3 separate regions of the Homo sapiens genome follow, and regions 1 and 3 are each linked to region 2. Evidence: fine-mapped expression QTL. A gene starts in region 2. Each other region holds a variant in brackets. All regions are shown on one strand. Distances are between the middles of the regions. Region 1 overlaps M1AP (meiosis 1 associated protein). Region 2 holds the start of DOK1 (docking protein 1). Region 3 overlaps SLC4A5 (solute carrier family 4 member 5).

Region 1 (9,760 bases), 67 kb after region 2:
TGTTCCTTTTTCTCCTTGAACTCATATTTCCATTTCACTTTCCCTGAGAGTTTTATCATAATGTAAAAGAATTTTTATGCTTGGCAACCTTTTATTGATCATCCCATCATACTTCTCTGCATCTAAAACAGCTATATTTTGCAAGAGTTCTAAGTTTCCTATGAGCATAGGCTCTAAGGGGCACTCTAGATTGAGTTATTATTAGAATTATCATTCATATACAATTTATTAAAACAACATGTATATACAAATTTTGAGAAATAATTATTGGCATTAAGCATAGCTTTAATTGGAAATGTTTCTCTTAATAATTGGAAATATTCCTCTTAATGGCATGGACAAGCTGGGCTCTTCTTTCAATTAGCTCAGGTTTGTGTGAATAAATAAAATAATTACTGATCGAATGACACAACATTCAGTATCAATTTTTATTCCTATTTTATTTATTTGGTGGCCAACATGGGTTGAGTTTATTGCATCATTATAAACAGAGAAAAATCTTGTTTTCTCTTGACCAGATACCCAAAAGGCTATAAAAGAAATGTAACTTAACTCCAATTTGAGAATATGTACTAAAAATTTTAAGCCTCACCTTGGTATTTTAAAAGACTAAATGTGATACCCTACAAGGCATTTTGATGTCACAAATTCATTCTATTACATTTTATATACAAAAATGCTACACCATTGTTCTAATTATGTGTCTGCAGTTGTACTACAACTATAGGACAGACACAGAATGATTCAAAATAGCTGGAATCTAAGCCTTACTTCTCAGTGATCAGGGCAGTCCAGCCTGGTGATGTCATATAGGGTGTCATTAGATGACACCCAGAACCAGCCACAACTTCGGACTAAGCTTGTTTGTGTCTACAATTGTGATGACATATTACTATGGATTTAACAATAAAAATTCCAAGCTAACGCAGGAACAGAAAACCAAATACTGCATGTTCTGACTTATAAGTGCGAGCTAAATGATGAGAACACATGGACACATAAAAAGGGACAACACACACTGGGGCCTGTCAGAGGGTGGAGTGTGGGAGGAGGGAGAGGATCAGAAAAAATAACTAATGGGTAGTAGGCTTAATACCTGGATGATGAAATAATCTGTACAACAAACCCCCATGACACAAGTTTACTTATGTACCTGCACATGCACCCTTGAACTTAAAATAAAAGTTAAAAAAATTCATACCATTTGTTTTAAGAGTGTCTGGGAAAAAATAAGCAATTATTCCATTTTGTGCCCTTCTCATGTTTTAAAATAAGCAATGTTCTATATTTCTATTATCGAAGGTTCAGAAGTAAAAACATTATAATAAATATACAAATCCTTGAAAACTCTTAGCATTTCTAGTGTTTAATACTCCCACTTCTTTGGCAATGCCGAATCTGCAAACTGACTGCTTAGTCTGTGCACATGTCAACTATGGAGAATGTGCATGTCCTGTGAATTTCAAATGGTTCTCTGGAGTAAAGCAAGAGATTGACCCATATTTTAAAGGTAACAGCAAACGTTTAACCTTAGGAACCAAGGACTCAAATTTGAAGCTACAGTCTTATTCTGATTAGCTTCTATGATGATATGGTTGGGGGGAATTTAGTAGCAAGTGAAGGTCAGGAGAAGATGTGGTACAAGGAAGGCAAGTGGGTAAGTGATATCAAGTGAGAGATGGGTGAAGGAATTCCATGATCACAGATGTAATCAGCAGCCACAGCAATGGACCTGTCTGCCCTGCTCTGCAGAGACCTCAGATGGAGCTCCCACCCCACATGCAGACAGTTCACCCCAGGCCAAGAGTGCTCAGCGTGCAGGGCCATGTCCTCCCACCAGACACCACCTGTACCTGTCAAGTGCCACCAATTTAAACTGAAAATACAAGTCAGTGAACCCTCTCTGTGTGAAGAAAAAGAAACAGCAGAAGAATGTTTTTAGCAGGTGAAAACCTAATGCTCTTCAGACTGTAGCAGGGCCCTTGAACCCCTTCAGTCACAACAGTAGCTTCTGAGGTGTGGGTGTTGTGGGTCAGAAACAATCCTCGATCCTCAGGCCTCCCTTGCACAGCTGTTTCCAGGCACTTCTGTCAAAGTCAGCAACAATAAGTGTGAAGGGGATTTTATAGTTTATCTTTAACTGCAATTAACAGCTGGATTGATGTCATGTTGCAAAATGACAAGTGCACTTGACAGATTAGTGTCTTTTCAAAAACCAATTCTTAGAAACTTCTATATCCCGAAAGTTCACAGGTGCAAATGTGCCAAACCCCAAAGAAGTCTTCAAAATGCCTCTGAAAGGCAAGGTCCCTCGTGTGCTGAGCCTCCCAAATCCCTCTTATCCCATCTGGTTAAGAGCTCAGTGGAAATCTAGCTGTCATTGTTCAGTCTTACAGCTCTTGACTGAGTAGATTTTCTTGTCTTTGGGGAAAAGCGTCATTTCCTCTGCCACTCTTGTGACAATGTCTTCATCTATAGCAGAACCATGGGCCCTCATCTCTGCCTTCATGCATATTTTCACGTCTGTACTTCATCGGCAGGAAAAAGGTAAAGTAATTGATTAAGGTTTTGTTGATCAGTCCATTGCACCACAGACCACTGTGCTTATTATTGAAGACTATCAGACGGCACAGGTTCCAGGTCCTTCAGCTAAATGTCTTCCCTCCTTCCTCCTACCCACCAAAAGTCAAGAGCTATCTCAGTTATGAGGTCCCTGTCTATGTTTCTGGGAAAGATGAAGATGGCTTTTTGGTAAAAACCTTTTTGTAGTGGTCTAGAAACAGACTGATTGTGTTGACAACCCTGGGGGTGGAATTTATGCATCTTGTCAAATATGAAAATAGCTGGAATATGCACTCACATTACCATGAATCCACTTCTGTAACTGGTCCTAGACCAACCATAAAAGATGAAATGGGATGGGGAGGCTCAAAGGATGCTCTGAGGGAGCAGAAGCACTATGCTGCTCTTCATGCTCTAAAAGACTTAAGATCAGAGCTCCCTGGGGAAGAACTCTAGGAAACTGCACTCTCACCTCCATTCAGTGGGTAAGTTTTTCCAAAACTTTATCTATACAAAGTTGAAATTGGCAGAGAGATAGGTGCTAAAATGCAAGGAAGTTTTTTCCTAACTCAAATGACATGTTAAATGTGACTTTTTTAAAGGTATAAGAGACACAAGATACATAAATATTTATCATTCACCGTTAACTAATCCATAGTGTTCATCTCACTGTGAAGCAAAATCTCAACTTAATATTACCAGACATATTGAAGAATAAGGAACTAGATTAAGACTTGCACAGTGCCCGAGACCAATGCCTTGTACTGACGGAATGAATGAAGGAGTTGACCTAGGTGACATCTCATGAAAAGCATTTATTCTGATACATTCTTGGAACAAAAAGACACCCAGGCAACAAGCTCTCAACCTCACAATGTAAAAAGGTTGTGACCAGGAAACTCCCCCAGATACATCCTTATTTATTTTACTATATTTCTAGAGATTTACGAAAAAATGTGAAAAATAAGAAAATTATTCCTGATTTTGGCAGTCTTCTCTATCTTACAGTTTGTGTGGCAAACACTCACTTTCACTTCCTTGTTCAGTTAAGTTTCTGTTTCTTATTTCAGTCCCCACCTAATAGTGGGAATATTAACCTTGACAAGGACGACATTCATTTAAATGAGAATGAACCCTCCTAGATAATGTAATACAAATTAAATGTGGAAGGAATATCTGAAAAGGAGAAACAGTGTCAATGTTCAGTTATTTGAGGCTTTCTTTGAAGAAAGCAATGCCAAGGACTCGAAAGATGAGAGGAACAAAGGGAAT[A/G]AAAGGTGTTTAGAAGAAAAGAAATCCTCTAATCTACATTGCAACATGCAGAGGCAAGGCTGAGGCTGCATCATAGGTGGAGAGCATTAAATGACCCCATGCCCAAACAACCTGCTGAACAACCCCCACCTAACACCAAATGCTCTGTGGGAATGTTGAGTGCATTCATTCATTGGAGAATGTGACTACCATGTAAACTGGGAGTTGGGAAATTTGGGTTCAAGTGTGTCTTAACTCAGTGGAGCCTGGGGCTACTGCAATGCAAAGAAAAGAGAAGCAGAGGCCAGAGTTAGTGCAGTTTGCCCAGACCAGTCCAAATGGCCTGTGAACAAGATAATGCTGGGTTCTCCTGCCTGGTACAGTTTTTTATCTTTTGCTCATGAGGGAAGTACAGAGTTAGTACAAATAGGTGGAGAGTTACTCTTCAGGCCTTTTGAGTGAAGACGTTCAGCCACAATTTGGCTGACAAAATTCTTGCCTATGCCAGCTCAGCCACGTAAGGAAAGAATTAGTTGTTTCTAGGAATTTCTGTTGCTTCTGAAGCCAGTCAGTGCCTTGAGAATCACTTCCGCGGCAACATGCTGTCCAAACAGCTTCTCCTTCAAATCCAGCTTGAGGGCTCTAGGAGTCAGCTCCAGAATAGAGAAACACACCTTAAAAATGCGCCAGAAAGGCCGGGCGCGGTGGCTCACGCCTGCAATCACTTTGGGAGGCCGAGGCAGGCGGATCACGAGGTCAGGAGATAGAGACCATCCTGGCTAACATGGTGAAACCCCGTCTCTACTAAAAATAAAAAAAAAAAAAATTAGCCAGGCGTAGTGGCGGGCGCCTGTAGTCCCACCTACTCGGGAGGCTGAGGCAGGAGAATGGCATGAACCCGGGAGGTGGAGGTTGCAGTGAGCAGAGATCGCGCCACTGCACTCCAGCCTGGGCGACAGAGCGAGGCTCCGTCTCAAAAAAAACCCCAAAAAACAAAAAAGCACCAGAAAAGCAGCACTTTCCCAGCTGGCAAAATGAGAGGCACAGATTAACAACTGATCCAGCCGGGCCTCTGTCAAATATGGCAGCCACTGGCCGCCTGTGGTTATTATCTGAGACGTGGCTACTCTAACTGAAGGTTTGTTGTCCATGTAAAATACACATAAGACTTTGAAGAGTAGTAAAAAAGATAATATTGGCCGGGCGCGGTGGCTCACGCCTGTAATCCTAGCACTTTGGGAGGCCGAGGTGGGCGGATCATGAGGTCAGGAGATCGAGACCATCCTGGCTAACAAGGTGAAACCCCGTCTCTACAAAAAATAATAATAATAAAAAAATTAGCCGGGCATGGTGGCGGGTGCCTGTAGTCCCAGCTACTCGGGAGGCTGAGGCAGGAGAATGGCGTAAACCCGGGAGGCAGAGCTTGCAGTGAGCCGAGATCGCGCTACTGCACTCCAGCCTGGGAAACAGAGCGAGACTCCGTCTCAAAAAACAAACAAACATAAAAAAGTTTAATATTGGTTGGGGGCGGTGGCTCAAGCCTGTAATCCTGGCACTTTGGGAGGCTGAGGTGGGTGGATCACTTGAGGTCAGGAGTTCGAGACCAGCCTGGCCAACATGGTGAAACCCCACATCTACTAAAAAAAAAAAAAAAAATACAAAAATGAGCCGGGTGTGGTGGTGCACACCTGTAATCCCAGCTACTCGGGAGACTGAGGCATAAGAATCACTTAGACCTGGGAGGCAGAGGATGCAGTGAGCTGAGATCATGCCACTGCACTCCAGCCTGGGCCACACAGTGGGACTCCATCTCAAAATTAAAAAAAAAGACAATATAAAAAATTCAATAAATTTTTATATTGATTACATACTGAAATGATATTTTGGATATGTCAGGACAAATAAAATATTAAAATTTGTTTTGCCTGTTTATTTTTTATTTTATTTTTTGAGACAGAGTTTTGCTCTTGTTGCCCAGGCTGGAGTGCAGTGGCACGATCTTGGCTCACTGCAACCCCGCCTCCCGAGTTCAAGCGATTATCCTGCCTCAGCCTCCTGAGTAGCTGGGATTATAGGTGGCTGCCACCATGCCTGGCTTTTTTTGTATTTTTAGTAGAGACGGGGTTTCGCCATGTTGGGCAGGCTGGTCTCAAATTCCTGACAGGTGATCTGCCCGCCTTGGCCTCCCAAAGTGTTGGGATTACAGGCGTGAGCCACCGCGCCCGGCCATTGCCTGCTTTTTTTTTTTTTTTTTTTTCTATTTTTAAAGGTGGCTAATAGAAAAATTTGTATTATATGTGTGGCTCACATTACATATCTAGTAAATGGTGCTGATTTAAAGGATATAATTCAAGGAAGAGAGAGGGTAACTGATCACAGAGAAATGGTCTGATATGCAAGAAGGAAGGGTAAGCAAATAAATTGGTAAATATATGAGTAAAATGAAATAAATATTAGCTGTATAAAACAATAGCAGTAATGTCTAATTTGGGGGTAAAATACAGGGGCAAAAATATGCACGATGAGAGGGAGATGATCGGAGTTAAAGCATTCTAAGGTATTGTTTAGTGAAGGGTAGAGATACCAATTAATTTAGGGCAACCCCTAAAAGAAAATAAATAGATTATACACTTTAAAAAAAAATAGAGTGGAAAAAAAAAAAACAAACCCAAAATCAGATAGTAAATGGGAGAAGCAAGCAAAGAAAAGGCAGGACAAATAGTAAACACCAAGTAAGATAATCAGAATAATCTTAATAATAATAAGGTCAGTAATTACAATAAATACAAACTTACTTCCTAAAATATACCAGCTAAAAAACAAATTATTGGACTAGATTGAAAAATTCCACTGTATGTCATCTCTAATATGCATACCTAAAAACAGTAATAATTGAGAGTAAAATAATGTTTAAGGGCTGGGTGCAGTGGCTCACGCCTGTAATCCCAGCACTATGGGAGGCCGAGGTGGACAGACTGCTTGAGCTCAAGAGTTCAAGACCAGCCTGTGCAACATAGTGAAACCCCGTCTCTAAAAAAAATATAAAAATTAGCCAGGCATGGTGACCCGTGCCTGTAGTTCCAGCTACTTGGGACTTGAGGTGGGAGAATGGCTTGAGCCCAGGAGGTGGAGGTTACAGTAAGCTGAGATTGTGCCACTGTACTCTAGACTGAGTAACAGAGCCAGACTCTGTCTATAAAAAAAAAAAAAAAGAGAGAGAGAGAGTTTGAGGCATTGAGACATACCCTCAGACATTTAAATTTTATCAGGTGGGCTCCACGCACTGATATATTTTAAAACTTCCTCAGGCAAATCTAATGTGCAGCTAAGGTTGAAACTGGTTTAACTTATGTTTTATTTAATTAAACTAATTAATTTTTTTTGAGACAGGGTCTCGCTCTGTCACCCAGGCTGGAGTACAGTGGCGTGATCATGATTCACTGCAGCCTCAAACTCCCAGGCTCAAGCGATTCTCTCTCCTTAGCCTCTGGAGTAGCTGGGACTACAGGCATGAACCACCACACCTGGCTAATTTTTAAAATTTTAGTAGAGACAAGGTCTTGCTATGTTGCCCAGGCTGGTCTCGAACTCATGCGCTCAAGCGATCCTCCCAACTTGCCTCCCGAAGTGTTGGGATTATAGGCGTGAGCCACCACACCTGGCCTACAATATACTGTTAATTAAAAAAAATTAGATAATGGAATCAGCAGGCATAGTATTATCTCATTTATGTAAAATTTAAGTCTTTTCTCTGTGTATCATCTATCTATAGAGTTGTCTTGAAATAGGCTGACACTCATATCATTGTTGGAGGGATTGGTCACAAAGGCATAAGCAGGCTAGTGCTAGATCAGCATAAGCCAGCATTAAAGTAAAGGTGAAGAGGATTTCAGAGGCTGTAAAGCTGTGGCACATTCTAGTTGGTTATCAGAAAGTCAAGTTAGAGAAATAAGGGATAAAAAATTGGTAATAATTGGGTAAACTCCAGGAATCAGTAGACATATATTATTGACCTAGAACACTTGAGTATGGCTAATATTTGTTGGACATCATGTAAATGCCTTGGCTTGACAAAATCTTCAAGAATTCTATTTCTGGGCTTTCATACATGAACTTTTTTGGGTTATCTTATAGATAGATAATATGGCCCTAGGCAGTTAGGATAACTTAGATTGATGTTTCATTGGAGGTCAGGTCAAGAAACCAGAATGCAGTTTAGGGAGGGGATTAAAAATATTTAAAAAGAAAATCAGAATTCCCTTTATAAAAAATCAAATCTTACAAAGACTCCCTATATATAAATTGGTATTTTATCAGCATAAATGTATTTTTAATATTTATGTGTTTTGAATACATACATTCATAGGGTTTGAAATTCAAAAGGATATGTAATTCTATCATTTTTCTTCCCTAAATAGAAGTGATGGCAATACTTTTCTGTATCTTGCTTTTGTTGATTATTGTATTTGAGCAATCATTTCACATCATTATAGAGTATTCCATTAATGGATGAACCGTGATTTTATGTAACCAATCCCCTATTTACAGACATTCAGTTTGTTTCCAATCTTTTGTTACTGCAAACAGTGCTAAAATGAATAATCTTGTACTTAAGTTATTTTTGTACATGTGTAAATATATATGTAGGATAAGGTCCTAGAAGTGAATTTGCTACTTTAAAAGATATGTAAATTGTGATACTGTCACCAAATTGCCCTCTATAATGTCGATTTATACACTGACAAATGGCATATAAGCATGCTTATTTCTTCAAATTCTCATGAAAATGTGTCACAGAAAATTTTTGCCAATCATATAGGTGGAAAGTGACATCTCTGCATATTTGGGTTTCTCTTACTATGAATGAGGTTGATGTATTTTCATGTCTCAATGTCATTTATATTTTCTTTTCTGAAAACTGACTGTGTATATCCATCCTCATTTTCTACTGAGTTATTGAATGTTTTTTTCTTACTGAGTTGTAGGAGTTTTCTATGTATGTAGAAAATTAACTCTACATGATATGAGAAGCAAATATTTTTCCTCATAGCTATTTATCTTTAGAATTTGCATGTGTGTTCTTTTCCAAGCATACATTTTCTGTTTTTATATATTATTAATCTTTTATTTTTAGATTTTTTGGTTTTATATTATGCTTAGAAAAGCCATTCCTATTATTTTCTCCCCATGGTCTGTGTATTAATTATTAATTTATTGCCTCTCAACTCCAAATTCATCCTTCAGTACATGCTCTGTGATAAATTCCTTTAAGCATTTCTCTTTTACAGTGAGCACAATGTTAAGTTTTCTTAGTAAAGGGCACTGGAGGGACATAAAGAGGCTCTCCTATTGTTACATGCAGCATACTGTGGGTCAGCTGTGGGGTATAGGGACACCTAATGGTGACCCATCCATGCATTCAGAATTCATAGTCTTTCAGTGACTTCATAGCCCTGCCTGGCCTAGTAATCGCCTTTCTGCAGCCCTTTCAACATGGACACCATATGATTCAGGCCTCCTGCCTGTACTAATGCCTAATTCCCTTTGCTTACTTGTTCCTCCCCGTGAGAAGTTTGTCTCCTGTGGCCATCTCAATGCTACTGCTCTTCCAACATGGAGAATACGTATTCTGGGCATCCTGCCTACACTCTCTCTGCATGCCTGTAAGCCCAGCCACCACTGTAGCTCACCTATCACTGGAGAGTAGCTTCCTGCTTTCCCAGGAACTGCAGACCAACTTTAGCCTTGACAAACTAGTGAACTCTGCCATCCAGTGGGTTACAAATACACATTCTGCAATTTGGTGTGAACCCCAGCCTCGGGAAGGGAGTCCCCCTTTCAAGTTTGACTTTCCTTAGGATCTCTCCCTTAGCCCTAGGGTACCATATAAATTCCCTTATATCTTATAGGTAATCTATTATCATAGTTTAATATGTTAAGCTATATT
Region 2 (9,760 bases):
GCCGTCAGGAAGCCTGACTTCCACCAGCCCCTCCGTCACGGGCAGGGGTCGTCTGCCCCACCCAACGGCGGGTCGAATTCGCACCTCCTCCACTTGCAGGTGATGCTCTACCTGGGGGCGGGGCCACAAGCAGGGAAAGAATCCCAGTGGCACCTTTCATGTGTCCCGCCGCCCTTAAGGAACCCTGCTTGGTGTGCCTGCTGTAAACCCAGTGGCGGGATGGGCCCGAGGCGGCGCTGAGAGAGCGGCCACGATGGCCGCAGTCCGCGGTGTGGACTCTCTTGCAGCCAGCAGCGCGTGGGATGTGCTGTGCTCCCAGAGAGGATTCAGGGCACTAGGAAGGAGGCCCTCCCTGTGCCTGGAGCAGGAGGGAGCACTTCAAAAAGGAAATGGCTTTGAAGGAGGAGAAAGTCAGAAGGAAGATGTCTCAGGAAAGCAGGAACATTTGAGGAGAAGGAGAGCACCAGGTGCCCCAGGGGTGACTAGGGATGAAGCTGGAGAGGCTCATGCCAGGTTTAGCCCCTTGAATGTGAATGCTAAAAACCTGTTGGATTTTACAGCATCTGGGAGCTCTATCATTTGCTTTTCCAAGTCTCCCACCAATCCAAATGATCCCCCAGGGGTAACTACCTTCTAATGTCTCCGCTAACCACCCCACAGTACTCTCGGCTATCCTGGGTAGTGTGTGTGTGTATGTCTAGGAAATGCAGACCTCAATGACATTGGAGTCCGAGAAGCCAGGGAGGCGCTGGTCTTTGCAGATGACCCCAGCATCCTCATCGTGCGTACAGTCACTGTTCCCCCAGCCCCGGGAGGCACATTCAGTCACACTCTGCTCGGTCCCACTGCAGCTCAAGTTGTCCAGCCAGATGCGGCCTGTGGAAGGGGAGATGAAGGGACAGAGAAGCTTGGGGAGGGAGGATGGGGGAGTAATGGGGATGTAGGGAAGAGTGAGTGCTGAGGCCTCCCACTTGGCCATGATGATCCCATCTTTCTGGTATGATAAGGGGTGGAGACGGGACAGGGGACCCTGGCAGGGAATAGGAAGGGGGCATAAGATTGAGGGAAAATTGGTGTGATCTGGGGATACTCAAGAACCTGATACGGTGAATAAAAAACCAAGAATCAACCCTGAAGTTCTGATCAGTCTCTACCCATTCATTGATAGCTACAATTAATCAGGTACCTACTGTGTGCCAGGTGCTCTGCCATGGTGTGCACATATGTGATCATTCTTAGAACAGAGCTGCCAGAACACTGTTTTATATAAAGAAACTGGGGTTTAGAGAAGCTGAGCAACTTGCTTAAGACCATAAAGCCAATACGTGGGGGCTTAGGAGTTTGATCTATCTGTGAGGCTTGGATGTCTAAGATCCTTTCTTCACATCCTTGCATTCTCTCTTGTGCCCGCCCTGTCTGTGCTGCCATATAGCCCCTTGTTCTTCTCTCTGTCTGAAACCTGTTTTTTTTTTTTTTTTGAAACGAAGTCTTGCCCTGTTGCCTAGGCTGAAATGCAGTGGCATGATCTCAGCTCACTGCAACCTCTGTCTCCCAGGTTCAAGCAATTCTCCTGCCTTAGCCTCCCAAGTAGCTGGGGCTACAAGCATGTGCCACCATACCTGGCTAATTTTTGTATTTGTAGTAGAGACAGGGTTTCAACCATGTTGGCCAGGCTGGTCTCGAACTCCTGACCTCAGGTGATCCACCCACCTCAGCCTCCCAAAGTGCTGGGATTATAGGCGTGAGCCACTGAGCCCGGCCTGAACCCTGTGGAGTATCACTGGCTTCCTCTCAGAATTGGGCGCAGCCTCAAAGGTCATCTGTCCTAGCCAATGTTCAAGGACATCTCATTCACATCCCAACAGGACTTACCCAGTTGTTGCGGAGACACCTAGCTCCTGCCCCACCAGACTGTGTAACCATCAAAGTCCTTGTGACTCTTCATGACTTTCCCCTACCACATCTGATTCATTCCTTTGGTGCCAACCAGAAAAATCCTTCAGCCACACGACTGTCCTTCCCATATTTAAAAACAACCATTACGCCATTGCTATGCAAGGTTTTTACTTTCCATATCAATCCCCTGATTCTTCAGCAATTCCTCCTTGAAACTTGGCTTCTGAATCTTTCACATCTAGGCAGCTCTCCTCTGAAAGTATTTCCATTTTCTACTGTCCCTCTTAAAACACAGCATCTACAAATGACACTTAATTCCACAGGTGGTCTAGCCAGTGGGAACTGGGGAATCAGCTGCAGGTTGCACCTGCTTCTGTCCATCATTCCCACTGTGGGTTCATACCATGGGCACAGTCCTAGGCCTCACCTAGGGAACTGCTCTTAAGCCTCCACCACCCACACTCATACTTGTCCTAGATTTTATACTTGTCCTTAGACAGTACCACCTTGTTAGTTTTAGCTCTGGCCCATAACCTGATTTTGTTAGCTGCAGTGTCTGTGACCCCTTGTGACTTTGGGACATCCAGATATCATTTACCTGCTCTTAGCGTCCCATGAGACTAACTGTACTTTATTTGTACAGGGCTCACCTGTATCTGGGCTGTTTTGTGGATGGCTTTGTAGGATCATACTTTTGCAGCAGAAAAGAACTTAGACATCATCTAGTCATTTTGCATACAGGGCATCTGAGGCTCAGAGAAAGCACTGACTAGCCTAAGGTCACACAGCTCTGGGAAGTAACTATGTTGCTTGGTTTGTCATCCATGGATTTACTCAATGCTGGCTGTTCTTGGTGTCGTGTGTCCCTATGGCTGTGCCATCCTCGTGTTCCCTTTCCCTGCACTTTGGCCACACATAGGAAATATCTAGGATATGCCTGGATCATTGCTCACCTGTTCCAGGGCCATATTTGGCACTGTGGGTCCAGCCTGTGGCCTCTGTGAAGCCCAGCTCCCGGCAGAGGATGTGGGCAGCCTGCAGCGTGAAGTCATCATCGCAGATGGTGCCCCATTCACCAGCTCGCTGTATCTCCACGCGGCCCTCGTAGGGCTTCCTGGGGAAGCCAGCCAGCCGGAACCGAAGCCCCTGGCTCCCGGCCTTCTTCTCAGGGCCCGTGGAAGGGGACGGAGACCCCAAGCACGAACTGCACAGCAGGCACAGCAGCAGCCCCCAGGGGCTCCACTGCCAGACACTGACAGGTCGCATGGCAGGGAAGGCCTGGGTGCCCCAGAGACAAAGTGTGCGTGAGAGAAACAGATTGAGTGGGGCCCAGAGTCAGAAAGAGAGGGAGAAGTCACGAAAGAAAAACAGACACTGAGTAAGACAGAGACAGCGAGAGACAACAGGAGAGAAAGAGCCCCAGGGACCAAGAGACAGGGAGAGAAACACATTAAATAAGGGCTGAGGCACAGGTCATAGAGGCACAGCCTGAGAGACCCAGAGATAAGAGACAACTATGAGAGATCGAGAGTCAGAGAAGGGTCAATAAAAAGAGATAGAGACTGAGCAAGAGACACGTAGAGAGAGAGGAAGACCCAGACAGACAGGATGTGAGAGGAAGGGAGACTGTGGGAATGAGAGAGAGAAAACCAGAAAGACACAGAGGAGAGAGACAACGGATAGAAAGTGATAGGCAAAGAACTAAGCACTCAGTATAGGGGAACCAAGCACACCGCGGGTGAGAAGGAGAGGGATTGACAAGAGCCAAGGGGCGGACGTGGGAGGGATCCAGATGACCCCATTTACTCAGAGGGAGGACAGACAGCTGTACTGATTGTGCAGAGAGGCACGTAAGGGGCCCTAGGCGGCCCTGGGATCACAGATCCCCTGAATGGGAGCCCAGAGTCCTAACCCAGCAGATTCCCAGGCAGGGAAGGCTGGCACCAAAGCTCGCCTGGAGAACCTGCTGCACGCCCTCCCCAACACGCAGGCTCTCAGATGCCCTGCAGGGTCAAGAGGCCCAGGAGGGCCAGGCCTCAAGGCTGGGCGGGGGATGGGGTAGGGTTGTCCCAGCCTCCTGCCAACACCACCATCCCTGTCACCGGGCAACGGGAGGCCAGGCGCTATGGCTCCTCAGCCAAGGCCTTCTCTGCCTAGGGCTGAGAACAGCCCCTCTACAGCAAGCCCCCGTCAACATGCTTCCCCCAACCCAAACAATCAATCCAACAAGGCAGCTTTGTTCTGGGTTGGGGACCCAGGGGCAGCGCCTCCCGGAGGAGCCCCCTCCCTTAGGGCGCTCCTGGCGGCCCTGTTCGAACACCCGTAGCCCCCGCCTCCGGTATGTGCCTCCTCCGTGTACTCTGTCTCACTTGCCCTTTGACAAGAATCAAACTCTCAGTTGGGTGGCTTCCCCTCGACTCCATCCCACACCACCCGTTTTCCCTGGTCCCTCCACATCCTCTCCATCCCCTACTCATTCCCTCTGCGGTTAGCGTGACTCCCCCTACCTTGGCCGAGCAGGACCCTAAGGGCTGGGAGAAGAGTGCTGGTCCTGGAGATCAGTCCTAGGACTTCCAAAAAAAAAAAAAAATGCTCGGCCAGGGGAGACTGGACCCCCCTCTCTCCCCCTTCTCCGTTCGTCCCTCCCACATCCCCCTGAGCCCTCCCACATTCCGCCTTCTCCTTCCATTCCTCCCGGCCAGTTCCCTCCTCTCCTCCTCTGGGTCCTCCCTCCCCGTGGAGCTGGCCACTGCCGCGCCCCCTCCCCCTCCCTGGCCCTCCCGGCTCGTTCAATGAAGCTTTCTCTTCCCGCGGCATGGAGGCCAGGCCTCTGCGGTCAGGGAGCTGACATGCAAGCGGCGGCCGGGCGGCGGGGCGGCCCCGGTGGTGGCGGGAAGCGGTTCAACCCCAGCCCTCCCTCCGAGTCCCGGGCCAGCGGAGTCTAAACAGCCCGGCTCGGGCGGGGCTGGGGGCGGGCCCGGCCAGGGTAAATAAAGCCCCGGAGGCCCGTGTGGGTCTCTCCGGTGCCCGGGGCGCTTTCGGGGTGATGTCATGGCTTTCACTCTGACGTCACCTTGGGCATATGACGTCACGCGCAGCCACCACGCCCAGAGGCCAGGGCCCTCGCGCCAAAACCGAGGACTTTCGGTGGAGCCACTGGCGCGCCCCCACGACGGCGGGTAGGGGCCTGGGGTGCTGCAGCTCCCGGCTAATCCGGGGGTCTCCACCATTCCTTCTCGCTCCTCTCCCTCACCCCACCGCGACCCCCCCAGCGGCTGCCGGCGGGGGCCGGGGAGGGGCGGAAACTCCTCCAGGGAACCCGGCCCCGCCTCCCGCCCCGCCTCCCGCCGCAGGGCCAGGAAGCGCGGAAGGAACCGCCGGGGGCCATGGACGGAGCAGTGATGGAAGGGCCGCTTTTTTTGCAGAGTCAGCGCTTTGGGACCAAGGTAGTCTGGCGCATGGATGCCGAACCTTATCCGGGCTAGTAGTGGGTGAGAGAGCCCAGAAACAGGGAGAGGTGGGCAGCGGGCTGGAGAGCGGCGCCGGGAGTTGGAGAGCCTGTGACTTTCCCGTGAAGTTGCTTTGCACACTCCCGGGAAGCGTCTGTAGTCTAGGGGTTCTGGTCCTGGGGAGACGGAGTGGCATCGTCCTTGGGAAACTTCGCCCCCAACCCCGTTTGGAAGCCCCAGATCCCAAATCGACTTGCGCCGCAACCTCCTTCCCCGTCGGGACCCGGGCCGCCTGCGCACGCCACTCCCTCTCGAGCACTCTCTCTCTCTCCCTAGAGGTGGAGGAAGACCTGGGCCGTGCTCTACCCGGCCAGTCCCCACGGCGTAGCGCGGCTCGAGTTCTTTGACCATAAGGGGTCGAGCTCTGGGGGTGGCCGAGGGAGCTCGCGCCGCCTGGACTGCAAAGTGATCCGTCTGGCTGAGTGTGTGAGTGTGGCCCCCGTCACCGTGGAGACCCCCCCTGAGCCCGGCGCCACTGCCTTCCGCCTGGACACTGCTCAGCGCTCGCACCTGCTGGCGGCCGACGCGCCGTCCAGTGCAGCCTGGGTGCAGACGCTGTGCCGAAACGCCTTTCCGGTGAGGAGCTGCGGCGATGCGGGGTGGGGGCAGTTACAGAGGCAGAGAAATGGGGCTGCCTCAGACCGACCCCCGCTCCCCGCTGAGGAAATTACGGGTTTCTCGATGCTCTCTACTACAGAAAGGCAGCTGGACTCTGGCGCCTACCGATAACCCACCTAAGCTTTCTGCCCTGGAGATGCTGGAGAACTCCTTGTACAGCCCTACCTGGGAAGGTAGACGCCTCAGAAGCCCGGGCAGGGATGGAGTGAAGAGGAGGAGGGCCGAGGGCCTTTGGGAAGTGGGTGGATACCCAGGGGCCCATGGGGAAGTAAGAAGTAGGAAGGCCCTGAGATCTGGCTTCCGAGTGAGTGCTTGGACACTATGCTCATGAGTCCTCTGGGTCCCCACTGCTGCCCCCGTCCCTCCCCCGCAGCTGTCTAATCGTGTATGCCTTCCAGGATCCCAATTCTGGGTAACGGTGCAGAGGACTGAGGCCGCCGAGCGCTGTGGCCTGCATGGCTCCTACGTGCTGAGGGTGGAGGCTGAAAGGCTGACTCTCCTGACCGTGGGGGCCCAGAGTCAGATACTGGAGCCACTCCTGTCCTGGCCCTACACTCTGTTGCGTCGCTATGGCCGGGACAAGGTGCAGGGGCTGTCCGGGAGGGCTTCCTGGGTTGGGCAGCTGTGGGAGGGGTGGGGCAGGACAGAAAGTGGGAAGCTCTGACCTTTGGATCCCCCTTTCTTGCCTACCCGGTGACCCCGCGTCTGTTCGCAGGTGGTCTCTTCTTTGTAGATACCCTAACTAGTGCAGGCGTGTGACTCACTTCCTCTGATGGCTCCTGGTAATGTGTTTCCCCCTCTACCCTCCTTAGGTCATGTTCTCTTTCGAGGCCGGCCGCCGCTGCCCCTCAGGCCCTGGAACCTTCACCTTCCAGACGGCACAGGGAAATGACATCTTCCAGGCAGTTGAGACTGCCATCCACCGGCAGAAGGCCCAGGGAAAGGCCGGACAGGGGCACGATGTTCTCAGAGCTGACTCCCATGAAGGGGAGGTGGCAGAGGGGAAGTTGCCTTCCCCACCTGGCCCCCAAGAGCTCCTCGACAGTCCCCCAGCCCTGTATGCTGAGCCCTTAGACTCCCTGCGCATTGCTCCATGCCCTTCCCAGGACTCCCTATACTCAGACCCCTTGGACAGCACGTCTGCTCAGGCAGGAGAGGGAGTACAACGGAAGAAACCTCTCTATTGGGACTTGTATGAGCATGCGCAGCAGCAGTTGCTGAAGGCCAAGCTGACAGACCCCAAAGAGGATCCCATCTATGATGAACCTGAGGGCCTGGCCCCAGTCCCTCCCCAGGGCCTTTATGATCTGCCTCGGGAGCCCAAGGATGCATGGTGGTGCCAAGCTCGGGTGAAGGAGGAGGGCTATGAGCTCCCCTACAACCCTGCCACTGATGACTACGCTGTGCCACCCCCTCGGAGCACAAAGCCCCTCCTTGCTCCCAAGCCCCAGGGCCCAGCCTTCCCTGAACCTGGTACTGCAACTGGCAGTGGCATCAAAAGCCACAACTCAGCCCTGTACAGCCAGGTCCAGAAGAGCGGGGCCTCAGGGAGCTGGGACTGTGGGCTCTCTAGAGTAGGGACTGACAAGACTGGGGTCAAGTCAGAGGGCTCTACCTGAGAAGGACGGCAAGGCTGAGGTGGCTAAGGGGGACCATGGGGAGGTGGCACTAGGGATCAAAGAAGATGGTTAGAACCAGCAGAAGCCAGAGGGTGGGAGGGGCCATGCTGTGTGAGACCAGGGGACCAGAGGGATGGGAGAGTCAAGGGAAGGACAATCCCAGGAAGTCCTAAGAAGTGGGGCAGATGGCAGGGCTGAGGATGGGCTCTGCATCCCCCAAAGCCATCCCTTCCCTACTTCCCCAAATGAAGGGACGGCTGTGGGACCAGGTCTGTGGAAAGTGGTGCATGGTCAGAATGGGTGCAGTTTGAGGGGCCTGTGTGGAGGCCTCAGGGAGATGTTGGACTGTGCCTGGATCCTTACTCCTGCATTGTTCTTTGCCAGAGACCTATTTAAAAATTTTAAAATTCTCATTAAAGTCAGCTTGGGTTTAAGAAGTTTATGTGTGTGAAGAGAAAAAGAGGGGACACAGTGGTTGGGTTGGGTGTGGTGGGGATCAAGAGGAGAACCAGGAATGTGTTGAGAGTCACGGAGAGGCAAGGGGCCCAGGAAGGGAACAGAAGTGTGGCGGTTCAGTGCCTGGGGAGTCAAGTCAAGCTGCCCTGGGCTAGATGTGAGCTCTGTGGCCCTGGGTGATAACATCTGCAACCCTCAGTTTCCCCTGTGCCCCTCTGTAAAATGGAAAAGCTATAATGGGCTCTACCTCACAGGGCTTTTTGTATGAAATTAGATACATTATAAGTATTTAGTGTAATCTGAAGCACAGGGTGTTTTTTTAAAAGTTTTTATTATTTATGTAGAGATGGCGGGGGGGTCTCACAGTGTTGCTCAGGCTGGTCTCGAACTCCTGGCCTCAAGTGATCATCCCACCTCAGCCTCTCAAAGTGTTGGGATTACAGGTGTGAGCCACTGCTCCCAGCCCAGAGTAAACATTTTATAAATGGTAGCTATTATTCTGTGGATGGAGGGAGCAACAGGAAGGTTGGTACATGTGGGGAGAGGGTAACAGGAAAGGAGTAGGTCTTTTTTTACACCATCCTCTCCCCTGTTCTGGGCAGCCCTCCCACCCCCCAGCACACACACTTTGCATGTAGGTACCAAGCACTTGTCTCTTTGGAGGCTGAAGCCTGGTGGTGTAGTGGGAAGGGCACAGGCTCTGAAATGAGGCTTGGATTTCAATCTTACTTGTCTTTTATGAGCTTTCAAAACCTCATCCTTGTTCCTGAGGTCCAGTTTACCAAAGGTGATCTGACCTCATCCACCTGCTTACACAGAGCTACAAGAAGAAATTCTGAGTTATGAATGCTCCTAACAATGGTAGAAGCTTACTGGGTGTTTAATCTTCACCTGTGTAAACAGTAGCAAATGATTCTAAAGAAAATGAAAGTCCTTGCTGGAGAAAGGACAGGCTCGGGTGTGTCGCTTCCAGACTTGAGGAGTGGGACAGCACTGAAACAGGACAGGAAGGCTGTTGTTTCCCAGTCAGCCCTCACTCACAGAGGCTCAGGCGGATAGAGAGCAAGTCTGACCACAGATAGCCATTATGTGAACCTGAGCATGGATATGGTTAAGCTGGGCAGCTGGGCTCTGGTGCTGGTGACTTAGGGCCTTGAGGGATCCTTCTCCCACTCTGAAGGCAGGAAGAAGGCATCTGAGGAAGATTTGCTGGCTGCTGGCATCTTGGAGGCTCTGCCTGGGACAGGAGTCATAGGCAGGGGGGCCACAGTAGCTCGAGCTCGGTTGGTCTGCAACTGCCCAGTCTGCAAAGAGAGCAACCAGAGCCTTCTCTGAAGATCAGAGTTTCTGAGCACCTATCCCATTCTCTGTTGGGCTTCCTGTCCTAACTCTTTCCTAAGTTCATTCCCTGGAGTGACAGCCTCAAGGCCGAGGACAGTGATCTGGAGTCCCTTAAGCCCAGCCTCCACAGTGCCTGTCTCCTTGCCTGGTGTCCTACCTCTGGCAGCTTGCCTAGCAGCTAACTTGTGGTAGCCTCTGCTCCTACCTCTGGTTTGGAAACGTCCTTCTGTAATTTTAGCTAAGACAAAATGAATTTTTTTTTTTTTTGACAGGATCTTGCTCTGTTACCCAAGCTGGAGTGCAGTGGCACAATCTTGGCTC
Region 3 (9,760 bases), 220 kb before region 2:
AGGTGGTGATGTCTAGAAGGAGGTGGTGAGGTCTAGATGGAGGTGTGTGGTTTAGGTGTAGGTGGTGAGGTATAGGTGAGGGTGGTGAGGTGTAGATGGTGATAGTGACGTATAGATGGTGGTGGTGAGGTGTAGATGGAGGAGGTGAGGTCTAGATGGACGTGGTGAGGTCTAAATGGAGGTAGTGAGGTCTAGATGGAGGTGTGTGGTTTAGGTGTGGGTGGTGAGGTATAGGTGAGGGTGGTGAGGTCTAGATGGTGGTGGTGAGGTCTAGATGGAGGTGGTAATGTCTAGATGGAGGTGGTGACGTCTAGATGGAGGTGTGTGGTTTAGGTGTAGGTGGTGAGGTATAGGTGAGGGTAGTGAGGTGTAGATGGTAGTGGTGAGGTGTGGATGAGGGTGTGATGTGTAGATAGAGGTGGCAAGGTGTAGATGGAGGATGTGGAGGCAGTGATAGTGATGAAGGAAGGAGTTAGAAGGCCTTGTGCATGAAGAAATAGAAGATTGTTGTTGCTATTATGCTGATAAATGTGGAAGAACCTGTCCTCCTTTGATTACACATGTGAAATGGTGAAATTTCACCATTAGGAGTCTGGAGACCCTTATTCTTTCAGAGCCATGGTACCTTTGGGAAATCACCTCTCTGGGCCTCAGTGTTCTTGGAGCAGAGTTTGCTCTATTAAATGGCATTTGTCAGGGGGAAATCTACCTCTCTCCCTCCAAGCACTTTTGCCTCACCTTATAAAGTGGGAACTTCTGTCCTTGCTGCAGCCTTGAGAAAAGTACTCTCCACTTACTGCTCTACCTCTAAACTCATGCTATCTAGCAGAGGATGAGTGGTTCGTGTGCTTGGAGAATTGGAGCACATAAAATGGGCATATGTCATGACTCAGGTTCTTCTGGATTTCCTCCTTCTGGGAACAGCCTCCTCAGAGAAGGCCTGTGCTTCCCTCCTCTCCTCTTCTTTTCAACCTGCCCTAGGAAGGGCAGGTTCTTGCGTTGTGGGATAGGGGAGTCTTCCAGTTCTGGGTAGATAAGTTTCATTCTGAGGGAAAGAATTAGGAAGCCCAACTGTACATTCAAAACCACATTCTCCAATCAGCTTTAGCTGTCATAAATTTATTTTAGTTCCAGCTGCTGGACTTCTATATCTTATTTCTCATTTGATTCTAAGCACAGAGGGGTTGTGAACAAGTCTCATTCTCAAAGTCCAGCACTGAAGAATTAGTAAAAGAGTCCACATAGACTGGGTTGGACTCAAGGATCTCTTAAGTTTCTTTGAAACTCTACTGCCCTACGATTCTATGTGTCTAAGTGAAATTATCGCTGAAGCAAAATAAACATACATTGACAGTTCTGGTCAGATGTTGGGACTCTTAATGGATAACTTCCCAAGCTCTGACTCCCTTCTTTCCTGCTTTTCAACTGCATGAAGACCTTTGATCTTCAGGCATCTTCCTCTTCTCCCCATATACCAGCTCCTCATGGCTTCATTTACTTCCCCTTCTGGTCTGGACATCATAATGAATCCTTTCCTCTCTTCTCTCATTGATACTCATAACCTCTTATTCCTGCCCTGCCAATCTCTTGGGCAAAATCAGTCCATTCGTTAACTTTTTCCTCCTGCACAAAGTACTCTTTTGTCTCTGGAAAAAGCCTGTCTTCAGTGGGAGAGAGAAAAGCCAATACACAGAATGGCAGAGGGGTGTCCATTTGTGTGTGTGTGTGTGTGTGTGCGTGTGTGTGCGCATGTATGTGCATGAAAGAGAGAGAGAGATGAGGAGGGAGAGAAAGACCTAGTCCTGTGATGTGTATGGCCAACCTCATCCCTGCCCTTCCCTGTGGTTTAGTTTTGTAAGCCAAAAAATGTTGAGAGAAGATATGGCTACCCCTTTTCTCTCTGCTCCCTGTCCTCTGGCCTCCTTCCATGTTACAGCCAAGGACATGCCAAGCCAGCCACTCAGCTGTGGCACTGAAGTAAATGCTTGGGGGATACTGTCAACTCTTCCTCACCACCAGAGTGGTAACAGCTGAGGCTCATGCACTGGTCTTGGGGAAAGGGAAAGAACTGGCCCCAGTGTTCCTCAGCCACAGGTGTCTTCCCCTGGGCACATCTGGCAATGTCTGGATCTATTTTGGTTATACTGGAGGGAAGGTCACTACTGGAGGGAGAGTACTTCTGGCCTCTAGTGGGTAGTGGTCAGAAATGCTGCTAACGTCCTACAAGGATGGCCCCCACAACAAAAAAATTATCTGACCCCAACTATCAATGGTGCCATGATCAAGAAATCCTGGATTAGGGCATTCAGTCTCTGGTTCTAGGCTCTCACTCAGGCAAAAGGAGCACTCAACATAGGCCCACCTCACTCGCCAGGGATCTGCCAGGAGAGGGAGCTAAAGATTCTTAGTACAGTTGGCCCTCTATATCCACAGGTTCCTAACCCAAGGAGTCAACAAACAGCAGATCAAAAATATTTGAAAAAATAAAAATAAATAACAATACAACAATAAAAAATAATACTCCCAAAATACAGTATAAAAAACTATTTACATAGCATTTACATTGTATTAGGTATTCGAAGTAATCTAGAGATGATTTAAGATAAACAGAGGATTGCATAGGTCACATTTTATGTGAAGGACTTGAGCATCTTCAGATTATGATATCTACGGGTGGTCCTGGCACCAATCCCTTGCAGATGCTGAGGGATGACTGTTTGACCTCTGTGCCTCCATTTTCTTCAGATACCTGGTGGACAGTGATGGCTGCTCACTGGGACGGATTCCCTTCCATCTCCTGGCTAAATGCCATCTGAACCCTACCTGGGTTTGACATCTGAAAGGATTTAGGTAGGTCTGACCTAGGACCATGGCATGGGGGCAAAATTCTTTGAAGAAAATAGCAGCTTCCTACCCTGGAAAGGCCTGCGGGACTTAGGCCCTTGTTAATGGGACTAAGGATTCATTTGGGGGCCCTGGCAGGCTTATCTAGAACCTTTACCCACAAGAAGTTCCCCACAGGCTGGGCAGTACTCACCACAGTATGTGCAATTTTTGGCTTCCAGATTGTTTGTGCCAAGCTTTGGCAGGTGGTACAATATTGGCTGCCCCAGATTCTTGTCTGCTTTAGCTGTTTCTGAACCATGTCCAGGGTTGAGAAGGGAACATACTGTGATGGTGTCAGCACTCTGCAGGAAGGTGAAAAAAGGTGAGAGATATGTTAAAGAGAAGCTGAGACATTGTAAGAGGCCAAGCCCAGGTGATGCTGTGGAGGAGTTCTCTTTCTTCACCACCCCTATCTACTTCCCAATCGCTGCTGTGGCCTATGGACTCGGCTCACTCTACAGCAGCCACGACGCAAGTCTTGCTGTTCCTCTAACACCCCAGGCTCATTCCCACCTCAGGACCTTTGCACTTACTGTTTCCCTAATCTTCAGCCTGACTTGCTACCTCGTGTATTCAACTATTTGGTCAAATGCCATCTACCCAAGAAAACCTTCCCTGACCAGCCCATCTAAAATGCCCCTCTCTGGTCATTAACTCTGCTTTATTTGTCTAAATGGCATTTCTATCCAAAACCACAGTATGTGTTTATTCATTTGTTCACTTTTTGTCTGTTCCTCCAATATGGCAGAAAGTTTGTCTTATTCACTGATGTATCTCTGATACCTAGAATAGAGCCTGGCTCATAAATGATTGGGTCCAAATCCTGACTCAACTAACTGTGGCATCTTGGACAACTTCTTTTTTTTTTCACTGCAATTTCCTCAACTGAAAAAAAATGCGAATAATAATTATATCTACCTCAATGGTTATCTGAATCAATGTGAAACCTTAGGTCAATGTCTGGCCCACAGGGAATAGTTAGTATTAACTAATAATATTATTATAATTATTACACCCTCAGGAAGAAGCTCACATGTGTATCCTGAGGAGGCGGGGAGGGGGATGAGCAGTATTCCTAGCAGCTTGCAGGAGCAGAGAGTCTTTTTTGCTTCTCCAGGAACCAAGTCCTGTTCTCCCGTCTTGCCTGCTCTCTGCTGCCCTCTGGAGGTCTGCAGTGGAGTCAGGCAGGGAGCTGATTCAGGGACGCCACAGATTATGTATCCTCCACTTCCTATGGGATAGCTGCTATCATTCCCATTTTACAGATGAGGAAACCACTTCTCACAGTTGTAAGTAACTTGCCCAAAGTCATGTGATCTCCTGCTCTTAATCACATGATGAAGAATGAGACATTGCTGGATGACAGTCTCTCTACTT[A/C]AGCAAGCTAGAGCCCACGGAGGCATCTTGGGCCTTGGCAGAGCTGCCACTGGAGCCATCATTTGGCACACACTATTGGGAATCATTGAGGCCACAGAGGAAATGTGGGTACCTAGGAACTCGTTCTTCAGACAGATCCCCAAATGGACCCAGAAACAGCATGCAGCCAAGCAAGGGCTGGCCCCTTCCTTCCCCTCTCCCCAGGCTGTACTTCCTTAGCCAAAGGACAGTTCTCTGATCACCTCAGCCAACCTGAGCTACCCTGGAAAGCTACTTCTCACCCTGTGCCCCTGTGCCTCTCTCTCAGAGCGTATGTCACTGGCTGGGCCAAATGATCTTCATGTCAACCTAAAATAAGAGGGCTATGGAAAGACATAGCCTCTAGAGACATCTGGGAGCTGATTAACTAATAAGAACCTGGAGACACCAGCACTGTCTGATCAAAAGATACAATGGAGGAAAAGATTTCATTTTCAATAAAAACAAAAACCCTAAAACATCTAGAAATAAACTCGCCTAGAAATGCATGTTTTATATGAGGACACGTGGCAAAACTTTGCTAAGAAACACATAATAAGACATCATATTTCTGGATGGGAAAACTGAATAGGGCAAATATGCTTAAGTTCAGACATTTATATATATTTTAAATACAATTCCAAGGGCATTTTGAATGAAAATGACCAAAAAATCATGGCTAAAGTATGAGCTTAGAATGTACTGAGTTTTTACTATGTGCTAGGCTCAGGGCTGACAGCTTTACATACCTTACCTCAATTAATCCTCACAGCAACCTCAAGAGGTCATTTCATTTATTTATTTATTTATTGTGGAGACAGCATTCTCACTCTGTCACCTAGGCTAGAGTGCAGTGGCACTATCACAGCTCACTACAGCCTTGACCTCCCAGGCTCAAGCGATTCTCCTGCCTCAGCCTCCCAAATATCTGGGACTATAGGCAGGTGCCACACCATACCAGGCTACTTTTTAATTTTTTGTAGAGATGAGGTCTCAATATGTTGCCCAGGCTGGTCTTGAACTCCTGGGCTCAAGCAATCCTCCCACCTCAGCCTCCCAAAGTGCTGGGATTACAGGAGTAAGCCACCACGCCTGGCTGAGGTCATTATTAATATTTATGAAAGACAGGTTGGGGAAGTGATTAAGAGCAGGAGATCACATGACTTTGGGCAAGTTACAACTGTGAGAAGTGGTTTCCTCATCTGTAAAATGGGAATGATAGCAGCTATCCCATAGGTTTATGATGAGTATTAAATGAGGTAACATACATGAAACATTGAGAGCAGTGCTTGGCAAGTAGAAGCACTGATATGAACTACTATTATCCTCATTTACAGACGAAAAAACTAAAGCTTAGAGAGGATAACATAATTTGCCCAAGTTCACACAGCTGATAACTGGCTGCCCTGGCCTGGGGGATGGGAATAGGGAGTCTTGCCTACAAGATCTGAAAAATTATAAAATCATAATAGTTAAAACAGGAAGCACATCTTGTATAAGATATTTTTATATGCCTTGCAAGATTATGTTCTGAAATATTAGCCAATGCCTTCTCCAGCCTGATACTCCCCTTACCTCTCTCCCTTCCCTGCCTCAAATAGCCAGGCCATTCTATGCTCATTGCTGCAGGGAAGGTGTGTGAAAACAGAAAGAAGAGGTAAGGAGCCTCTTTCCTTAGGGGAATAGAAGAGACTTCTGGCCTAGACCTAGACCAAAGTGTGGGAGAAAATGGTCATGAGAAAGATCAAGGCATTCCCTGCCCCTCACTCATATCCAAGAATAATTCCCCAGGGCAAGGACAAAGGCTGGAGGGAAGTTGAGAAACATTGACTTTGCTAGGTCCTGGAGGCTGAGGTCCCAATCCCCGCTCCCTGGACTGAGCCCCACAGAGAAAGCAGCATCCCTCACAATCTGTGGATCTGAGAGCAGGGAACAGAACAGCTGCTGGGTGTATCTAGGCCAAGAGGACCCCAGGCAAGCTCCCTGAGTGAGGCTGCTTGAAGAGGTGGAGAGAGACTTTGACCTCCACAATAACCTGCAGGCACCAACGACCCAGGACCAGATGGGACAAGGATAGATGACATGAAGGGCAGGACCCTTTGTAGGTCACTGAGAGTCTAGAACCCTGCACTCCACCCCACCCCAAACCCAAAATGGAAACTGCAAAGGAAACTCAGAACTGACTGGGATTAAGGGTCAGCACCTTTTTAAAGAGCGGGGCTCAAGTACAGATGAAGGAGAATTTTATAAACAAACTAATTTTTTTACACACTTGAGTTTATGGGCCGAAACTGGTATTCTAAAGGATAAAGTTTTAAGAAAATAGTGTTAGGGAAATGCACTGTTTAAAAAATCCATTTAGAAGAGAAGCTTGGGCAGCGGACAAAGGCAGCAACTTAAATCATTCGCAGGGCTCAGCACATATTATTGATCTCTGCTCCGAAATTAAATGTAATTGTTCCTTAAGATTGAGCTTGAATTTGCATCCCGATCTGCCTTGGACAGTAACTATCTGCCCCTGTTGTCTTGGCTTCATAATTAGTTGTGCTCCTTTCATTCTCAAAAGGGTCCCATTTTGAGCAGTAAATTATGTGGTTATTCTGCCTAAGATCTTTAAATGAGAGTGATCCCATGGGTGGGCTGACTCTGAACTAGGTATCGTGAAACAGAAAGTAAGGCTTTCCAGGCAGGTGTGGCTGGAGCCCAGTGGCGCCTGACATGGAGCCTCTGGAGGGCAGAGAACCTCAGCTGGATGGGAAAGGAAGGTAAGGTAAAGGGCAGGTGGGGCATCAAGAGAGGGTCAGGTGCTTGGTAGTTAATAGGACAGTGGCGAGATCAGAGTAGAATGTTTGAATTTAATATTTCAGAGATGGAGCAGCTAAGGATAATGGTGTGGCCCAGGTTTTGACCATAGGCATAGGAGGGAGAAATGGAGGCAAATGGAGGCCTGATTTTGTTTGGGGACAGGAACTGGGCACTGGGGAGACACATGGATGGGGGTTTGTCTCTACTCTTGTACTCTTCAAATTTTGAATCTTGTAACTGTGTTATTTTAAAAATCTACAAGTAAAATTAAAATGCAAATCAGCACCACAATGAAATACCATTTTTTACCTTTCAGATCGGCAGATATCAAGAAATTTTTCAACAGTGAGAGAGGAGGGCAATGGGCCCTCATACATCTACTTGCCAGTGAGATGCAGATAAGCACAGCCTCGATGCAGCCAGTTTGGCTGTATTTATATAACTTTAAAATGGACATACCTGGCCAGGTACAGTGGCTCACGCCTGTAATCCCAGCACTTTGGGAGGCTGAGGTGGGTGGATCACTTGAGGCCAGGAGTTCAAGACCAGTCTGGCCAACATGGTGAAACCCCATGTCTACTAAAAAAATACAAAAGTCAGCCAGGTGTAGTGGCTGTAGTCCCAGCTACTTGGGAAGCTAAGCCATGAGAACTGCTCGAACCCAGTAGGCAGAGGTTGTGGTGAGCCCAGATCGTGCCACTGCACTCCAGCCTAGGTGACAGAGCAAGACTCCATCTCAAAAAAATAAAAATAAAAATAAATAAATAAAATGGACATACCTTTTGGTAGCAGCAACTCTTTATCTGGAAGGTTATCTTACACTCCCACCTGTGGACAAAAACAGAGATGTGGTTTGGGACAGTTACTCACCTCCCTGTGCTTATGTCACAGTTGTAGTGAGAATTAAATATGATACATGGGAAGGATTTTAACAAGGGCCTGGCACATGGTAAGCATTCAGGAAATGCTGGCTGTTATCATCCGAGCATTGTTCACAGTGGCAAAACATTGGAAACAACCTGAATGTCCATGAATAAAGGACTGATTTTAAAAAAGAAAGAAAGAAAAACAAGTTTTGTCTCTACTTTGGAAAACGATGAACCTTTTAAATAGAATGAGGATATTCTTTAAATGGTGCTATGGAATGATTTTTTTAGAAATATTGTTAGGGGAGGGAGAGCATCAGGAAGAACAGCTAATATTTGCTGGGCTTAATATCTAGGTAATGGGATGATCTGTGCAGCAAACCACCATGGCATACATTTACCTATGTAACAAACCTGCACATCTGGCATATGTACCCCTGAACTTAAAATAAAAGTTGAAGAAAAAAATAAATAGATTTTTAAATTTTTAAAAAAGAAATATTGTTAAGTAGGAAAAAGGGAAAGTGTAGAAGAGTGCTTATGGCTGTCATCATGCCTGTGTAGAGGGTGCCTATGGGTACAGTATGGTCTCTCCAGGGAAGAGGTCACAGAAACTGGTTACAGTGATGCTTCCTGGGAGGGGAACTTGGAGGTCGGGGCTCAGGGAACTCTATGACTTCTTGTACCTTTTATATTGTCCACCATACAGAGGTATTCCCTATTCAAGAACAATTAAGTAAATTCCACTTCTGGGTATACACCCAAGAAAACTGAAAACCAGGATTCAAACAGATAGTTATATCCCAATGTGCATATCAGCATTCTTCACAATAGCTAAAAGGTAGAAACAACCTAAATATTCATCAACAGATGGATAAATAAAATGTGGTACATACATACAATCGTGATTCAGCCTTAAAAAGGAATAAAATTCAGACACATGCTACAACATGAATGAACTTAAGGACATCACGCTAAGTGAAATAAGCCAGACACAAAACGACAAATACTGTATGAGTCCACTTATAGAGGTACCTAGAATTGTCAGATTTATAGATACAGAGAGTAGATTAATGGCTACCAGGGCCTGGGGCAGTGAGAAATGGGGAGTTAGTGTTTAATGGGTATAAAGTTTCAGTTGGGAATGATGAAAAAGTTCTGGAAATGGATGGTGGTGATGGTTGTATTACAGAACAATGTGAATATAATTAATGCCACTGAATTGTACATTCAAAAATAGTTAAAATGGTCAATCTTATGCTTATTTTGCCATAAAAGGAAATCATTTTAATAAAAATATTTCTTTATCACTTTGATTGGAGCTATGTTAAATGTAGATTAATCACAAAGAGCTGTGTTGTATGAGCAACAACAAAAAACAGTCCTATCCAAAAAAGCACTTTTGTTCTCCAAATTCTGGCATTTTCTATGCTAGGCAGGCCTGCTCTGCTTTGCTGGCTGGCTTTTTGGGGGTTCATGTTACTGAGCAGCGATGAAAGGCTGAACCAGGACCAGGGGAAGAGGGTAGCTTCATCCAAGATGGAGGAGAAATGGGCAGGAAAGAGATGATGGGTGGGGGCAGAAGCAGAGAAATTCCCATGGGGCCATGAGGATGAGATAAATGGGGTGGGTGTAGGAAAGGAATTTCCTACAGGGGTGGAAAAAGCTGGCCTTTGAGGGGAGTAACAGAGGAGTTACAGCAAGAATCTGTAAAAGAATCACCATGTTCCACTGGTGAGCTGGAGATCACAAACGTATAGTTTTCATATTCTTCTCACCTCTTCTCTTCCAGGCAACAACCCTGACGG

The links. PIP is the estimated chance that this variant, and not a neighbour inherited with it, causes the effect.
Region 1: its variant is fine-mapped to the expression of DOK1 in whole blood (TOPMed, PIP 0.92).
Region 3: its variant is fine-mapped to the expression of DOK1 in whole blood (INTERVAL, PIP 0.94).

The regions. Positions count from the first base shown.
Region 1 is chr2:74,616,494-74,626,253 of GRCh38, forward strand. All of the region lies in intron 2 of M1AP (meiosis 1 associated protein), which reads right to left. It also overlaps the pseudogene TOR1BP1. Among named protein-coding and RNA genes, the nearest start is that of M1AP, 27 kb to the right of the region's middle. The variant A/G (reference allele first, on the strand shown) is at 3,835.
Region 2 is chr2:74,549,473-74,559,232 of GRCh38, forward strand. It overlaps DOK1 (docking protein 1), which reads left to right and starts at 5,248. Exons shown (of 5, transcript NM_001381.5): 1 at 5,248-5,342; 2 at 5,682-5,981; 3 at 6,103-6,196; 4 at 6,422-6,606; 5 at 6,836-8,079. The coding sequence starts at 5,283. The coding sequence ends at 7,642. It overlaps LOXL3 (lysyl oxidase like 3), which reads right to left and starts at 4,470. Exons shown (of 14, transcript NM_032603.5): 1 at 4,404-4,470; 2 at 2,850-3,174; 3 at 713-876; 4 at 1-111. The coding sequence starts at 3,162. It overlaps M1AP (meiosis 1 associated protein), which reads right to left. Exons shown (of 11, transcript NM_001321739.2): 11 at 8,411-9,402. The coding sequence ends at 9,244. RefSeq lists silencers at 3,290-3,584, 3,570-3,864, 4,590-5,339 and enhancers at 3,570-3,864, 5,348-5,865, 5,490-5,549.
Region 3 is chr2:74,330,990-74,340,749 of GRCh38, forward strand. It overlaps SLC4A5 (solute carrier family 4 member 5), which reads right to left. Exons shown (of 31, transcript NM_133478.3): 3 at 7,866-7,914; 4 at 3,038-3,188. Among named protein-coding and RNA genes, the nearest start is that of SLC4A5, 7.5 kb to the right of the region's middle. RefSeq lists a silencer at 2,366-2,455 and an enhancer at 3,958-4,147. The variant A/C (reference allele first, on the strand shown) is at 4,264.